2 separate regions of the Homo sapiens genome follow, and region 2 is linked to region 1. Evidence: fine-mapped expression QTL. A gene starts in region 1. The other region holds a variant in brackets. All regions are shown on one strand. Distances are between the middles of the regions.

Region 1 (8,580 bases):
GGTGATCCTCCTACCTCAACCTCCTGAGTAGCTGGGACTATAGGCCAGCACCACCACACCCAGCTAATTTTTGTATTTTTTGTAGAGATGGGGTTTTGCCATGCTGTCCAGGCTGGTCTCAAACCCCTGGGCTCAAGCGGTCCACCCGCCTTGGTCTCCTAAACTGCTGAGATTACAGGTGTGAGCCACTGCACCCAACCTCCCTCCTTTTTTCAAGGGTAGGGGACAGCATTTCTGCTGGGTGAGTTCCTCTCTTTTGCCAGTGGGATTGCTCCTGGCAGCAGTGGGGTCTAAGGGCAGGCAGAGAGGGCTGGGCTGGCCTGGCCTGAGGGCCCACCTCTCTCCAGGTGACAAAAGTCTCTGCTGCCCTGCAATAGACACTGGGGGGCGGGGCATGGGAATGAAGGAGGCACAGGGCATATTTACTCCCTCCCTAAGACTCAGAGTCTAAGGGAGGTGGGGGAATGACTGGCGATGAAGAGATCAGATGGCAAGGGTCTAAATCAGGGGCCATCCTCATCTCCTCCCAGCCCGCAGCCCCTACAACTCTCACTCCCGCCTCAGGCCTAGGCTCCTGGGCAGGGCTGAAGGCTGCCCCTCACGCAGAGGATCTGCACCCCCAGCCAGCTTCTCCGGGAAGAGTTTAGTGTACAGTTCACTCATTCATTCCACCAATGTTTGCTGAACTGCTGCTCTGAGCCGGGCTCTGAACTTAATGAGCAAAACTGAAGATGAGCAAAAACAGCCTTGGTCCTGGCCTTCACGGGGCAAGATGACAGTCTCATCGGGAAGAGGGACAGGGCTCAGATGGTCACAGACATAGGCCAACAAGACAACTGCAAGCAGTAAAGCTAGAAAGCACAAAAAAAGGAAAAAGGGAAGGCCCCTCTGAGGAAGGGAGGGTTTGATCTGTGACCCCATGGAGGAGACCTCAGCCAGTGCTCGGGAGGAAGAAACGCCTCAGTGTGGGAGGGAGAGGGGTTTGGGAGAAAACCCCCAAAGGCCAGTGGCTGGAGGAGGAAGAGGAGGCAGAGCCAGGCTGCCATAAAGGGCCGGGGCCCTGGAAGCCACAGGGAAGTTGAGCCTCTAACCTGAGTGAAAGGCGATCAGTAGAAGGGGCACGATCTGCGGGGGTGAGGGAGGCAGGACCCACGTGGGAGAGCCCAGAGTGGAGGCTATCGCAGAGCCCAGGCAAATGATGGTGGTGTCAACTAAATAAGAAATCAGCCTTTTGACCAGGTGCAGTGGCTCACGCCTGTAATTCCAGCACTTTGGGAGGCCAAGGTGGGTGGATCAGCTGAGGTCAGGAGTACGAGACGAGCCTGGACAACATGGAGAAGCCTCGTCTCTACGAGAAATAAAAAAAAAAAAAAAAATAGCCAGGCATGGTGGTGGGTGCCTGTAGTCCCCACTACTCTGGAGGCTGAGGCATGAGAATCGCTTGAACCCAGGAGGCAGAGGTTGCAGTGAGTTGAGGATGCACCACTGCACTCCAGCCTGGGAGATAGCAAGACCCTGTCTCAAAAAAAAAGAAAAAGAAAAAATCCACCTTTTGGCCAGGCACAGTGGCTCATGCCTATAATCCCAGCACTTTGGGAACCCAAGGCAGGCGGATCAGCTAAGGTCAGGAGCCTGGCCAACATGGTGAAACCCTGTCTCTACTCAAAAAAAAAAAGCAAAAATTAGCCTGGCATGCTGGCATGTGCCTGTAATCCCAGCTACCCGAGAGGCTGGGTTGGGAGAACCTCTTGAACCCGGGAGGTGGAGGTTACAGGGAGCCGAGGTCACACCACTGCACTCCAGCCTGGGCAACAGAGTTAAACTCCATTTCAAAAAAAAAAAAAAAATCAGCCATTGAAAAAATTAAAGTTAGTTTTATTGAGTCTTACTGAGGACTGCACCCTGGGAGAGGGTTTCAGAGAGTTTCTGTTAGACTGCGCCAAAGCAGCATTTCAGCCCACAGTTTAGATACAGAGGCAGGCGGTTCTGTGTGTGCTCAGAAGCTATGGTCAGGCACGGTGGCTCACGTCCGTAATCCCAGCACTTTTGGAGGCTGAGGCGGGTGGATTGCTTGAGCTCAGGAGTTTGAGACCAGACTGGGCAAACACGGCAAAACCCCTTCTCTACAAAAAATACAAAAAAAAAAAAAAAAAAAAAAAATTAGCCAGGCATGGCGGCTCTTGCCTGTAGTCCCAGCTACTTGGGAGGCTGAGGTGGAAGGATCACTTGAGCCCAAGAGGTGAGCTGTGATGGTGCCACTGCACTCCAGCCTGGATGACAGAGCGAGACCCGGTCTCATTAAAAAAAGAAGAAGAAAAATTTACATCAAATGTCTTCAGAAGCTACACTAGTGCAAATCTCGCCAAGGTTTGGGTTCGAGGATGCACCTAGTTATATAGATTATAGAGGCATAATCGTCAATCCTGTCAGGTGCTATCTTATGTACAGGAAAAGGCACAGCCAGGATCATTTAACTTATATTTTCTAACAATGCAGTGATTCAGGCAAGAGGCGTGGGAGCCTGTGTTCTGCCCTGCCTGCCATCTTCAAGGCATCCTTCCGTTGGGCTGCCCCCAGTCACTGAGTCAGGGCTTTGTCAGCTTCTGACAAGCAGAAAGAGCAAATGCGGTTTCTTGGGATTGCAACTTGGTCTCACAGTGGCTTAGGCCAGGGTGGGAGCAGTGAACGGAGTCACAAAAGAAATTTTTCAGGTAGCATTCACGGGTGGGTGCTGGATTAGATGCAGGGCTAAGGGCAGGGGAGGAAGCCTGGGTAATGGAAGGCTGCGGGGCCAAGGGGGGACTGGGAATCCTGGAGGGCCAGGTCTGGGGGAGAGTTAGGAGGTCGTGAATTTGGACTTGGATGCTTGTTGAAGCTGATGCATCTTGAGGACATTTGTGGGACACATAGGCTGGGTCAGGGCTGAAAGAGGTGCTGGTTATGGCCGGGGGCAGGGACTCATGCCTGTAATCCCAACAGCCCAGGAGGATGAGACAGGAGGAATGCTTGAGGCCAAAATTTCGAGGCCGGAAGTTCCAGACGAGCCTGGGCAACACAGCAAGACCCTGTCTCTAGAAAAGGAAAGAAAGAACCGCTGGTTGTGGAAGCCAGCCATGGCCCAGAGCTCAGCAGTGTAGGAGAGGAGGGTGCGGGCCTGAGAGAGGCAGCAGGCTTGGCTGGAGAGGCAGAAGGAAAACCAAGGCAGGAGAGTGTCCTGGAAGCTGGGAGAAGGCAGAGGGAGATCGAGGCTTACTTTCTGGCTGAGGGGCCTAGGGTGAGTCACTTTGGGAGGCTTGATTTCCTCCTCTGTGAAATGGGCAACACACCTACCCTTGCCCACCTCACCCCCCTCACCCCGTCGACGTCGAGTGAGGAGCAGCTGTGAGGAGGAGGAAGCTTTGCACAGACGTGAGGACGGCCCCGGGCGCCTCTACCCCGGGGACACCCCCCCCCCCAGGAGATGGAACCCCGAGGGCACGGCGTGGCGGCCCATGCGGGCAGCTCGCGTTAGGACCCAGCGGCTCCGGGGCTGGAGGGCGGGCGCCAGCCCCGTCGGGGGCCCGGAGGGGGACTCGGAGCGGGCCAAGGGGCGGCTCCGGCGGGCGGACTCGGAGCGGGCGGCGGAGTGACCCGGACAGGTAGGCGCGGGCCTGGCGCTTGGGGGCCCCGGGGGGCGGTCAGGGGCGTCGGCGGGTCCCCCGGCGCGGGGGCGAGGGTGCCAGGCTCTCTGGGTCCTCGATCCTGGGGCAGCCGCGGAGGTTCCTGAACCCCGCGCCTTCAGAGCGGAGGCCAAGGGGGCACCTGGAAAGTTTGGGGTTGCTCTGCAGAGAGAACGCGAATTGGGAAGGGCGGGGAGCCCGAGTTTGGGGGGAGCCAGAGGTGAGGTCGTCGGGGGATGGGACATCTTTTGTTCTCCCGGGGAGGTTGGAATGTGGCGGGTGGGGTGGGGGGGGGGGGTCCGGTGGGAATGGCCGAGACAGAGACGCAGAGAGACAAAGAGAGATCAGAGACGGGAGCGCGAGGGCGCGCGGAGCAAGTTTCCGCGGCTGATTGTTCCCAGCTGTGCGGCGCTGCAACATCTGGGTTTCTCCCGCCGGGACCCCTCCCCCTGAGCCCGGCTCTGGAGCCGGCAGAGCCCTCCCTCCGTCTGATGTCTGAGCGAGCGTCGGGGCCCCCTGTCCCCCACCTCCCAGGACGCAGGGGAGTCGGGGGTGGGGGAGGCCGCAGCTGTGGAAGAGGCCAGAGGTGGGGGTGGGGCAGCCTCCCAGGCAGGTCCTGGCCTCCCGCACGCCCCAAAACCCCTTCGTCTAGAAGAGCTCGGAGATGTGGTCCCGTGGGAGGAGTTCATGAACTCCACACTGACTTCTCTCTTTCCTGCCTCCCCGCTAGCCCGTGGGCCTCCTTCCCCCAATAAGCCTGGGTTCGGGGGCCAGTCCTAGGGGAGGAAGACTCCCCGCAGGGTACCGACAGGCATCCCCCAACACCTTGCAACCCCTCTTGCCCCAATTCAGCGCCTTCTGCTGAGCAGCGGGGGCTCCGACCGACCTGACGGATGGGGAGAAGGGCAAGGAAGGCTCTCTGGGTCTTTTCATCCCCCTCCCATGAGGAGGTCAAGGGTTTTCAGAATGGGGTGTGGGGAGCCAGCTATCCCTCGCCTCTGGGGCAGCTTGGTCCTGAGCTTCGTCTCCCGGCTCCCACTCCACCTTAGTGAGGTGCCTAATGCATGAGAGGAGCCAGGGGGTCAGGAGGCCTCAGGATTGAGAGGAAGGAGGGAAAGACCTCCTGCTTTCTCCCCTTTCCCTCCCCTCTCCCTGGACTCCCAGTGGGGAAAATAGACCAAAGTTGGGGTTTCCAGCTAGCTCTCTGAAAGGACTTCCTGGGTTGCAGCCGGGAGGGGCCCTCCTGGATGGACCCCGCCCTCGCAGCCCTCCCTACAGAAGGCTGACGGACCTGAGGTGGCCCTCCACTGAGCTGGGGCTGGATGTGGGGAACCGGAGGCTCCCCCAAGTCCCACCGTGTAGCCAGGACTGGAGGCTGGGCTCTTGAATGTCAGGAGCCTGATGAAAGCCACGGACCCCATGCCCTCTCCCTCCAAATGACACACACACTTGCCTACAGTGTCAGGGGGTGCAGAACCCCCAGCCTGGGTGATGTCACGGCCCCTTCAGTGCTGCCTTTCTGGGATCCAGAGGAGCCCCCTCAGGCTTCACTCTCGTGCTTCCTGCTGCTGCAAATAGCCCGGGTCTCGTGAGCCTGTGATGCACACAGCCAGGTCTTGCGAGGCCTGGAGGCCTGGCAGGAGAGGAGTCTTCTGGGAGCTGGGAGCCCTGCCCGGCCTGGCCGCTCTGGGGGCCGGGCAGGCCCATGTGTATGTGGTTTCCTGCTGAGCAGGATGCTTAGGGCCCAGGGGCTAATTGGGAGCAGGTGGTGGCTTGGCAGAAGCTGCTGAGTCCAGGCGGTGATGCCGGCTGGCCAGGGCTGGGGTCCCAAGGATGGGCCTGGGTTCAGTGATTCACGCAGTCAGTGCCTTGGACACCCAGGGAGCCACTGGGCCAGAGGGCTGAGCACGGGTGTGGGTGAGGACAGAATGGCCTGGGCTGGGAGCACATTAGGAATGTCCCCTTAGTGAGCAGGGCAGGGTCCGCCCTTCCCTGACCACATCAAGTACACCCACTACACGGGGTTTGCTTGTCAGGATCAGCCCTGGAGCTGGGTTGGAGGCCTTGTCCCTTGTGACCTGAACACCTGGGTGGGCCAGCAGGGACTGGGATGTCCCTCCACTCCAGCCCTCCCATGCCTGGCTTCTATTCTGGGTGCCACCTTCTCCAGGGCGAAATCAGGGGATCAAAGGTGAGCTCTGCTGTCCTGGGTGTGGCCCTGGGTAGAGCTCTCCCACCGGTCTTTCCCCAGCTGTCCTCTCTGACACCACCCCGGCCTGCCTCTTTGTTGCCATGAGAGCTGCCTACCTCTTCCTGCTATTCCTGCCTGGTAAGTGGCTCCTGGGGCAGGGGGTAGCTCCTCTTATGTGGGGCTGAGGAGTAGGGTTAGTAGGGGGAATTCATAGTGAGCCTTTGTCACGACTTATGACCAGAACTCAGCTCCCCAGCTCCCAGGGCCTTCTGCCTGCTTGGACCACAGACTGGACCAGCCAACCCTGGCAGCATCTGGAGGCAGCTCCTGGCCCTTCCCCCAGCCTTCCACAGCAGCAGGCAGGCAGGGTTCTGGAGGGCACGTCCCAGGCACAAGGACTCCGTGGGCACAAGGCACAAGGCCTCTCTGGGAGCCGATGTGCAGGTGCAGGGGCACCCAAGGCAGGGAGTCCGGATGCTTGAGTTCTAGATCCATTCAGGGCCCTTCTGCTCTATACAGTCCTGACCTTGTGGGGGTCCCTACTGGCCAAATGAAGAGAATCAATGAGGACCACAAAAGTCCTAGCAGGGCCAACATTCATTCATTCAGCAGCGATGTGTTGAGTCCCTACCACGTGCCAAGTGCTGGGCTAGGCCCTGGGGATTCAGCGATGAACCAGGCAGACACATCGTTGCTCCTCATCATGCTGCCAGTCCAGGGAAGGGAGACAAATAGGAAACAAGCAGACATGAGAAACTCCAGCATGTGCTGAGTGCTGGACAGAAATCAGCAGGAGGGCTGGTGGGCTGGAGGTGGGGCGGCATCTTGGCACAGCTGAAATTCCAGGGAAGACCTGAAGGAGCTGAGCAGGCCTCACAGGCCCAGGGAGTGTCAGGTGCAAAGGCTCTGAGGGAGGCAGGAGCATGTGGAGTCCTAGGAGCAGCCAGGAGGCCAGCAACAGGAAGGGGCAGGGTAAGGTCAGGGAGGTGACCCATGACCAGGGTGGGGAAGGGTCTTTACCATCGAAGAAGAGTCTGGATCCTCTAGGAATCTGCTTGTGGGGTCCTAGGCTCTTATGGGCCTGACCTTGTGACCCCCGCCTCCACTCTCCAGAAGCGCCTCGGGCCCCCGTTGCCCCTCCCGATGGGGTACCCTACATGCTTTGCCTCCCCACAGCAGGCTTGCTGGCTCAGGGCCAGTATGACCTGGACCCGCTGCCGCCGTTCCCTGACCACGTCCAGTACACCCACTATAGCGACCAGATCGGTAAGGGCCTTGCCGGGTCACCGAGGCCTGGCTGCTCAGATGTGCCTGGCTCAGCCAGGGACCGCACTGGACACGCTGATGGGAACTCTGGGGGTTGGTCCCTGGCTCAGGAGGGAACTTGTTTGCCCCAGGGGCTGGGGGATTAGCCTTACTCCCACCAATTCCACTTTCATCTTTGTTTGCAGACAACCCAGACTACTATGATTATCAAGGTAACGGGCTAGGGGTAGGATAGGACGGGCCGGCAGCTGGGGTGGGGAGACCCCCTGGGAGGGGTAGAGGGAGCAGACCCCCTTATCCTCCCCTGGCTGCAGAGGTGACTCCTCGGCCCTCCGAGGAACAGTTCCAGTTCCAGTCCCAGCAGCAAGTCCAACAGGAAGTCATCCCAGCCCCAACCCCAGGTAGGCCCCAGACCCTGCTCCCACCCGTCTCAGCTCCTGCCTCACCCCTCCCCACCCTGTCAACCCTGGGAGTGGGGGTCTGCCAGGGCTGGGAGAGGTGACTCCCCTTGCCCTGAGGAGACCCCTCCCAGTGATGTCTGCCTACCTCTGTCTCCACACCAGAACCAGGAAATGCAGAGCTGGAGCCCACAGAGCCTGGGCCTCTTGGTAAGGGCTTTCTTGACAGCTGGAAAAATGGAGGCACGCCCTGAAGTTGGGGTGGAGTAGGGGGTGGTGCTGGTGGGCTGGAGGTCTTTGGCCCTTGCCCATGTGGGCTCTTGGCAGTGTGGGCAGTATGACTGCCGTAGGCTGGCATCACCAGGCCCCCCAGGCAGCTCCAGGAGGTCCCACCTGTCCCCAGTGTGCCTGGCTGGAGGCTAAATTGGCAGCCTAGGAAGGCCCCTGACCTCACAGATACTGGGAGGGGCAGGGAGTGTGCTGGGGGCTTCCTGCCAGCCAGAGAGACTGAGTGGTGCACATGTGGAGGCGAGGAAGGGCCAGGGAGTGCAGGCTGGCTGAGCGGTGCCCTCCGGCTGCCCTAGCTGAGAGCTTGAAAGAACAAGGTGTGTGTGTGCAGGAGAATCCGTGTGCTCACTCTCGTGTGGGTTGGTGTGAGCGCTCCTATGTGGGCTTCTGTGAGCGTGGGCACGTCTGCTCGGGAGTTGGTATGGGCTTTTGTGGCGATGCATGGGTGGGTGCAAATTTCTGTTTGAACTTAGGCTTCTATAGTAAGTGCGGTTGTGAATTGATACGTGAATATTACAGCCCTGGGAAGTCTGACAATGCTGCGTGGGTCTATGTGGGCATGTGTAGGTATGGGTGTCTGCACGGGGCCTGAAGGTACAGGGGGGACTAGGCCCTGTGAGCCAGCCTCAGGTGGGTGAGGCTGGGGGCCGCCCCCCACTCTGGGCTCCTAGTCTGACCCCACCTGTCACCAGACTGCCGTGAGGAACAGTACCCGTGCACCCGCCTCTACTCCATACACAGGCCTTGCAAACAGTGTCTCAACGAGGTCTGCTTCTAC
Region 2 (8,580 bases), 25 kb before region 1:
AGAACCTTTTCTTCATAAAGAGTCTTGAGGCCGGGTGTGGTGGCTCACACCTGTAATCCCAGCACTTTGGGAGGCTGAGGTAGGAGGATCAGCATGAGGCCGGGAGTTCAAGATCAGCCTGGGCAACAAAATGAGACCCTGTCCCTACTAAAAAAAAATTAGCCTGGTGCAGTGGCACCTGCCTGTAGTGCCAGCTACTTGGGAGGCAGAGGCAAGAGTACCTCCTTTAGCCTAGGAGGTCAAGGCTCCAGTGAGCTAGGATCATGCCACTGTGCTCCAGCCTGGGTGACAGAGTGAGACCCTGTCTCTTTTAAAAAAAAAAAAAAAAAAAAAAAGGAAGAGGCTCAAGCCCCTCCCCCCAACTCCCAGCACCTTTGCCTTCAAGCTCTGTTGTGTCCAAGAGACAGACATTCATTCATTCAGTCAGTCGGTCAATCAGTGTTTCCTGACCCCTGAGCACATGGCAGGTACTGTGAGCAGTAAGGGCAGTGACACCCATCTGAGCCTGATGCTGAGGGGAATGTCAGGAGTAGATGTGCTGGGCAGAGAGGACCTGGGAGTAAGGCCAGCCCTGTTCCAGCTTTGAGACAAGTCTGAGGGCAACTGCCCCAGAGGCTCAGTGCTCTCGTTTGTCAAACTGGGTAAGAGAGCCCACCTTGTGGGTTGGTGCGGGAGGAAATCAAATCAGCACCGCAGGGATGGCTCCTTTCCCATCATCCCTGAGCCCGCTGGGCTGTTGGCCTGAGGGTTTTTTTTTTTTTTTTTGAGTCTTGCTCTGTCACCCTGGCTGGAGTGCAGTGGCGTGATCTCAGCTCACTGCAAGCTCCACCTTCTGGGTTCACACCATTCTCCCGCCTCAGCCTCCCAAGTAGCTGGGACTACAGGCGCCTGCCACCACGCCCGGCTAATTTGGTTTTTATATTTTTAGTAGAGACAGGGTTTCACCGTGTTAGCCAGGATGGTCTCAGCTAGTCTCCACCTCCTGACCTCGTGATCCGCCCCCCTTGGGCTCCCAAAGGGCTGGGATTACAGGCGTGAGCCACTGCGCACGGCCGGCCTGAGGGTTTTAAGGTACAAGGAGCAACTGTTGAATGGGCCTAGGGAGCCGTGGGACAGCCAGGGCTTCAGACAGGGTGATGTGAAAGGAGAAGAGAGCCTGGGAAATGGATAAGCAGAAGCCACGCCCCCCTGACCTGGGAGCCGGGTCCTGCCCACCTGTCCACGCAACCCCCCCAGGAACTTCAAATGCTTCTACCTCCCTGTGTGCTGGATGCTTCGGGACTATCATCCTAGAGATGAGAAATGGAAGCCCAGAGAGGCAAAGGCACTTGCTGTATGAAACACAGCATCAAAAAAGAAATTCTTAGGAACAAATGATGGGCAAAAAGACAAAACCCTGTCTCTACAAAAAAAATTAGCTGGGCATGGTGGCCTGTGCCTGTAGTCCCAGCTATTTGGAGGCTGAGGTGGGAGAATTGCTTGAGCCTGGGAGGTCAAGGCTGCAGTGAGCTATGATCGCAACACTGCACTCCAGCCTGGGTGACAGAGAGAGACTGTCTCAAAAAAAGACTTATACACGAAAACTGTAAGCTGGGCATGGTGGCTCACGCCTGTAATCCCAGCACTTTGGGAAGCCGAGGCTACAAGAGTGATAAGTAAATAAATGAATGAATGAATGAATGAAAGGACATCACAACCGAGGTTACCTGGCAGGGTTGATACGTTAGCCATGTACCCTGTGCACAGTGAGCCCTCTAGGAGTGTTGAAGCCAGAGTGCTTGGGGATGGGGCTGCTCAGAGGCTGGGGGTGCTGTGCCCACAGCAGCTGCCTGGGGCACTCTGGACTCTTTGGGTAGAAATTTTAGAAGGGCTCGCCGGGCGCTGTGGCTCACGCCTGTAATCCCAGCACTTTGGGAGGCCGAGGCGGGCGGATCACGAGGTCGGGAGATCGAGACCATCCTGGCTAACACGGTGAAACCCCATCTCTACTAAAAATACAAAAAATTAGCCGGGCGTGGTGGCGGGCGCCTGTAGTCCCAGCTACTTGGGAGGCTGAGGCAGGAGAATGGTGTGAACCCGGAAGGCAGAGCTTGCAGTGAGCCGAGATCGCGCCACTGCACTCCAGCCTGGGTGACAGAGCGAGACTCGCTCTCAAAAAAAAAAAAAAAAAAAGGAAAAATTTTAGAAGGGCTCAGATTGGGGGATGAAGGAGGGAGCCCAGAAAATCAGCAGCCTACCCCGCACCCGCCCAGCTTTTCCAGCTTAGTGAGCTTTTTCAGAGGCTCTTGTGAAACCACAGATGCCTAGCACCATCCCTACCCCGGCCTGAGGAGTTGATCCAGCCAGTCTGGGGAGGGCCCTGGCATCTGCATATGTAAAAGGTGCTCCAGGTGGTCTGGGACCGTAGATGAACCCTGACAGAGGCTGTCCAAGGGTGGGGCTGGTGAGCTCTACCCGCTCTGGAGCCCCAGAACATCCACTGGCTGCCTGCCCTGCTAAGGCCACAGCTCTACAGCACAGGAGGAAGGAGTGAAAAGAATGTCTGTGGCCGGGCGCAGTGGCTCAGCCTGTCAGCCCAGCACTCAGGGAGGCAAGGCGGGTGGATCACCTGAGGTCGGCAGTTTGAGACCACCCTGACCAGCATGGTGAAACCCCGTCTCTACTGAAAATACAAAACTTAGCTGGGCGCCTGTAATCCCAGCTACTCGGGAGGCTGAGGCAGGATAATCGCTTGAACCTGGGAGGCAGAGGTTGTAGTGAGCCGAGATCATGCCATTGTATTCCAGACTGGGCGACAGAGCAAGACTTCATCTCAAAAAAAAAAGAATATCTGCAATAGAACCACCTGATACCATTCCCCAAGTCTCAGTTTACCCATCTGTAAAGATAGGCCTGCAGGGCTGACCGTTTATTAGTCCAGACTTGACTTTGCATCTCCTCACTGCCAGACCTGGGCTGGGCACGGGCATGGAATGAAGATAAGCATCCCTGACCCCTGCCCTCAGGGTGGGGACTGGATGAGGATAGAAAAGTGAGACCCAGAGCTCCAAGGAAGCTAATGGCTGGATGCACGAGCACCATGGGGGCTTGGGGCACTGTCCAGGCCCCATTCTCCAATTCTGGGCCATACCCAGCAGAAAGACCGACACACGCAAGGAAACAAGACACTACTGGCCAAGCACGGTGGCTCATGCCTGTAATCCCAGCACTTTGGGAGGCCAAAGTGGGCAGATCACTTGAGGTCAGGAGTTCGAGACCAGCCTGGCCAACATGGTGAAACCCCATCTCTACTAAAAATACAAAAATTAGCTGGGCATGGTGGTGCATGCCTATAATCCCAGCTACTCGGGAGGCTGAGGCAGGAGAATCGCTTGAACCTGGGAGGCAAAGGTTGCAGTGAGCTGAGATCAAGTGACTGCACTCCAGCCTGGGTGACAGAGTGACACTCCGTCTCAAAAAAAAAAAAAAGATACGGTAAGTAAGAACCGACGGAAAGAAGAGCCAGATAAAGGACACAGGAAGACATGAGCTTTGGGCTCTGTCAGACCAGGTGCTTACTGTTTTGTGTTTTGTTTTGTTTAGTTTTTTGAGATGGAGTCTCACTCTGTTGCTCAGGCAGGGGTGCAGTGGTGTGATCTTGCCTCACTGCAACCTCTACCTCCCAGGTTCAAGTGATTCCCCTGCCTCAGCCTCCTGAGTAGCTGAGATTACAGGCACGCGCTGCCACGCCCGGCTAATTTTTTTTATTTTTAGTAGAGATGGGTTTCACCATGTTAGCCAGGTTGATCTCGAACTTCTAACCTCAGGTGATCCACCCGCCTCGGCCTCCCAAAGTGCTGGGATTACAGGCGTGAGCCACCGCGCCCAGGCTGATGTTTATTGTTTTTAAGGAAGCAAGAGGAGAAGGTGCCTCCCCAAATGACCTTTCTCTTTTCTGTCCACAGACAGCAGCCCTCTCGTGGGCAGCACGCCCACCGGTTATGGGACCCTGACGATAGGGACATCAATAGATCCCCTCAGCTCCTCAGTTTCATCCGTGGTAAGTGGGCAGAGTGGGGTGGGGAAAAGCTGCAGGGGGTGAATGCCCAGGCCCACCCAGACACCCCAACTTCCTACTCCAGCCCCGTTCCCACCCCGACCTGGGCCCTCTCTCGCTGCGTTCGCAGAGGCTCAGCGGCTACTGTGGCAGTCCATGGAGGGTCATCGGCTATCACGTCGTGGTCTGGATGATGGCTGGGATCCCTTTGCTGCTCTTCCGTTGGAAGCCCCTGTGGGGGGTGCGGCTGCGGCTCCGGCCCTGCAACCTGGCCCACGCCGAAACACTCGTTATCGAAATAAGAGACAAAGAGGTGAGAGTCAGGCTGAGCCTGGGGCTAGAGAAGCGCAGTGAGGGTCAGGGTCGGGGGTGGAGGATGCTTGGGTGCCAACCCGGCCACTGACTTTCCATGGGACATTAGGCAGGTCCCGCTCTTCTCTGGACCTCAGCTTTCCCATCTGAGCATTGGGCAGAAGGGACGGGTCGGGTGGTTTCTGGAGGGCTC[T/C]CCATAGCCTTGATTTCTGCCTTCTCCAGCAGGGGCCGCCTGGCTGTAGGACAGGGCCTGGGAGGGGAGGGGACTCTTCTGAGACTGAGTCCATACCTCTGTGTTCCAGGATAGTTCCTGGCAGCTCTTCACTGTCCAGGTGCAGACTGAGGCCATCGGCGAGGGCAGGTGAGGCAGCCCCATTGCCCCTTCCCAGAAGCCCCTGCTACCCTGGCCTCCCCAACTTCCCCAACCCTCGGCCCCCCCATAAAGGCTGACTCTGGCGCCTCCCATCCTAGGGAGGGAAGATGGCTCTGTGAGCACAGGGAGGTGCCAGGGCAGCTCCCAGAGCTCGAGAGTAACCCTCACCTGCTTCCCCAGCCTGGAGCCGTCCCCACAGTCCCAGGCAGAGGATGGCCGGAGCCAGGCGGCAGTTGGGGCGGTACCAGAGGGTGCCTGGAAGGATACGGCCCAGCTCCACAAGAGCGAGGAGGCGGTGAGTGTCGGACAGGTGGGTTCTGAAAAAGTCCTTGCCCCTCTCTCGGCCTCGGTTTCATGATCTGTGCAATGGGAGAGTCAGACTTCATGTTCTCCCACCACCTTTTAGTTCTGTTGTCCCAAACATCCAGGATGCTGTCTGAGCACGTTTACACTTTCAGGCCTCTCCCCACCTCTCTGTCTGGTGACACCAGTCCCTGCCCCCTACCCCCATCCCTCGGCTCCCAGCATAAGCACACTGCTTCTGGGGCCGGGGCCAGCTTCCAACCCATCCTCTCCTCTCTCCCACCCAGAAGCGGGTGCTGCGGTATTACCTCTTCCAGGGCCAGCGCTATATCTGGATCGAGACCCAGCAAGCCTTCTACCAGGTCAGGTAGGAGTCAGGGCCTGTGTGGCTCATGTCACCTCCCAGAGTGGCACTGGTTTGGGCACAGACGGTGGCATGGCATGGCCTGGGCTCCCCTCTCAGCTCTGATGCTTTTGCTGTCTGAAACCTTGGGCAGGTTACTGAGCCCCTCCAGGCCTGGGATCTCTGTCTATAAATAGGGCATGAAGATAACTTCTGCCTCCTAGGATTGTTTTGATGGTGAAATAGATAATAATTTATGTAGAGCTTGGCACCGAATGTGATCTGAGGTTGTGACACCACTGTGAATCAGACTATCAGCTCTGTACTCAGACTGTCTGCTTGGGGTTTAGTCACTGCTCTGCCACCTACAAAAGGCTTAAGAAACATGAGCTCAGGCTGGGTGCGGTGGCTCACCCCTGTAATCCCAGCACTTTGGGAAGCCAAGACAGGTGGATCACGAGGTCAGGAGTTCAAGATCAGCCTGGCCAAGATGCTGAAACCCCATCTCTACTAAAAACACAAAAATTAGCTGGGCGTGATGGCATGTGCCTGTAATCCCAGCTACTTGGGAGGCTGAGGCAGGAAAATCGCTTGAACCTGGGCGGCAGAGGTTGCAGTGAGCCAACATCGCGCCACTGCACTCTAGCCTGGATGACAGAGCATGACTCCATCTCAAAAAAAAAAAAAAAGAAAAAGAAACACAAGCTCACCACACACCTTAGTTTGTGTGTATGTGTGTGTGTGTGTGTGTGTGTGTGTGTGTGTGTGTGGTTTTTTTGGTTTGTTTGTTTGTTTTTTAAGATGGAGTTTCACTCTTGTTGCCCGGGCTGGAGTGCAATGCCGCATTCTCGGCTCACTGCACCTCCGCCTCCTGGGTTCAAGCGATTCTCCTGCCTCAGCCTCCCGAGTAGTTGGGATTACAGGTGCATGCCACCACACCCAGCTAATTTTTGCATGTTTTGTAGGGACGGGGTTTCACCATGTTGGCCAGGCTGTTCTCAAATACCTGACCTCAGGTGATCCACCCGCCTCAGCCTCCCAAAGTGCTAGAATTACAGGCATGAGCCACCGGGCCCTGCTCACACACTTTAGTTTGAATGCCGCAGAAGCAGACCCCCAGACAAGGGCTCAAGGGCAGGGAGTTTGTTTTGAAGCTGATCCCAGGCAGTGCTGGGGAAGGGATGGAAGCACGGAGGGAGGTTATGCTGGCTGCCACAGCTGTGGACACCCGGACTTCAGTCGCCTGGGGATCTCCTTGGGCCAGCGTAGACCACACACCTCTGGGCGACCTCACACAGGGAGTGAGGACAGTTACCATCAAATTCCCTGCCATTATCAGTCACGGGACACAAAGTCTTCCACGCTTTCCGGGCTCACAGGCAGGGGATTCACATGCAGCCAGAAGGCCTCAGGTAAAGACAGGTGTTTTCAGGGTCCAGCTGTCATGTGGAGGTGAGGCAGAGGGGAGATGGGGATGGCAGCAACAGCCTCTGCTGCATGATGGGGATAATAGCAAAAATCACCCGTGCATTCATCACTTAGCAAGTGGCAGGCACGTCCAAAGCAGTCCCCGAGGCTTGCCCCACTTAATCTACCCATGGCCCTATGTGGTAGGTGCTGTCACTGCCCCCATTTTGCAGATGAGAAAACTGAGGCACAGAGAGGTTAAGTGACTTGCCCAGGGTATCATCAGTGTAAATAGTGCCCTTATCACTAAATAACAGCTACTCTTTTCACTGTTCATATTATTAGCATCATCTCTCGCTGTTCTCCTTCTTCAGTGACTTGGTTTGGAACCCAGTGAGAGGAACAAAAGGGCAAAGCCAAGCCTTGGGTTCAAGGGGGCTTACTTGCTCCCAGGAGCTCAGTGTGGCAGAACGGGGATGGGGGGCCTAGAGCCCATAGTCTCCAGCCTGCACAGGGTGGGGGATGCAGACCTCAGGCCCCATGGCCCATGCGTGTCCCCTCGCACCCACCCCCAGCCTCCTGGACCATGGCCGCTCTTGTGACGACGTCCACCGCTCCCGCCATGGCCTCAGCCTCCAGGACCAAATGGTGAGGTCAGTGCTGCCCTGGACCGGGGTGCCCTGAGAACTGGGGCTCCTTGTGTTGCCCCCCAATGTGGTTGCCTTCCAGTCACCTGCCTTCTCTGGGCCTCAGTTCCCCCAGCTGAAAGTGGGGAGCTCCTTCACCCCGGGAGGGTCCAGCCACAGCTCCTCCTTCTGATGGCTTGGCCTCATCCCCTCTTCCAGGAAGGCCATTTACGGCCCCAACGTGATCAGCATACCGGTCAAGTCCTACCCCCAGCTGCTGGTGGACGAGGTAGGGCTGTCCCTGGGTCTTGCCCCAGCCCTGCCTGGCGTGCTGTGTGACCTTGGCCCAGGGCTTGCCTCCTCTGGGCCACTTTACGGTGGCAACCAGACCAGCTGTCCCCTTCTCCATAGTGGATCGTCATCTCAGAACCTGCCGCAGTCAGCCTAGCCAGAGAGACCAGGTCCAGGAATTGGAGGTTCTGCCCAAGGCTTGGGTCACAGATTGGGGCCCCACTCATAGGGATTGGAGGCCAAGAGGCAAATCCACGCAGCCTGAGCATCTATGGGGTCCCCAGAGACACGCCCTAGAGCCTGGGTCCTCTCTGTGCGTCCTCCACTTTCATGCTCCCAACAGTCCCGTGGGTTGGGCCTGGGACTGCACTGTTCACACCTGAGAAATCCAAGCTTCAGTTGGAGGCTGTGACATGGCCAAGGTCACACAGGGACAAAGAGAAGCCAGTGACCTGGACACAACTAGAATAAAGTGTGAACATCCCAGCCCTCTGATCGGGGGCAGGCACCATGAAAGAGATCTTTGAGTCTGGCCCCATAGAAATCAGTCTGTCACTTAGAAGCTATGTGGTTTTTTGTTTTTTGTTTGTTGTTTTTTTTTTTGAGACAGAGTTTTGCTCTTGTTGCCCAGGCTGGAGTGCAATGGCGTGATCTCGGCTCACTGCGATGTCCACCTCCTGGGTTCAAGTGATTCTCCTGCCTGAGCCTCCTACATAGCTGGGACTACAGGCGCCTGCCACCACGCCCAGCTAATTTTTTTTTTTTTTTGTATTTTTAGTAGATACGGGGATTCACTATGTTGGCTAGGCTGGTCTCAAACTCCTGACCTCAGATGACCCACCTGCCTCGGCCTTGCAAAGTGCTGGGATTATAGGCATGAGCCACCGCA

Which allele goes with the higher level. Alleles are on the strand shown, and positions count from the first base shown. SD is a standard deviation of normalised expression in the study named.
For the expression in hippocampus of the gene that starts at base 3,605 in region 1, T is the high allele of the variant in region 2 and C is the other (moderate effect, 0.46 SD a copy in GTEx).

Evidence for each region. PIP is the estimated chance that this variant, and not a neighbour inherited with it, causes the effect.
Region 2: its variant is the best candidate, but not a certain one, in a credible set for the expression of MFAP2 in hippocampus (GTEx, PIP 0.77).

Annotation. Positions count from the first base shown.
Region 1 is chr1:16,975,645-16,984,224 of GRCh38, reverse strand. MFAP2 (microfibril associated protein 2) reads left to right here and starts at 3,605. Exons shown (of 9, transcript NM_002403.4): 1 at 3,605-3,638; 2 at 5,911-5,988; 3 at 7,027-7,116; 4 at 7,302-7,328; 5 at 7,431-7,517; 6 at 7,680-7,724; 7 at 8,495-8,580. The coding sequence starts at 5,952. It overlaps LOC105376806 (a long non-coding RNA gene), which reads right to left and starts at 8,364. Exons shown (of 2, transcript XR_947003.3): 1 at 7,663-8,364; 2 at 6,430-6,556. RefSeq lists enhancers at 4,324-4,829, 4,830-5,337, 5,338-5,843.
Region 2 is chr1:17,001,143-17,009,722 of GRCh38, reverse strand. It overlaps ATP13A2 (ATPase cation transporting 13A2), which reads left to right. Exons shown (of 29, transcript NM_022089.4): 2 at 3,945-4,039; 3 at 4,167-4,349; 4 at 4,651-4,709; 5 at 4,902-5,031; 6 at 5,312-5,391; 7 at 7,350-7,427; 8 at 7,620-7,689. Among named protein-coding and RNA genes, the nearest start is that of ATP13A2, 6.5 kb to the left of the region's middle. The variant T/C (reference allele first, on the strand shown) is at 4,542.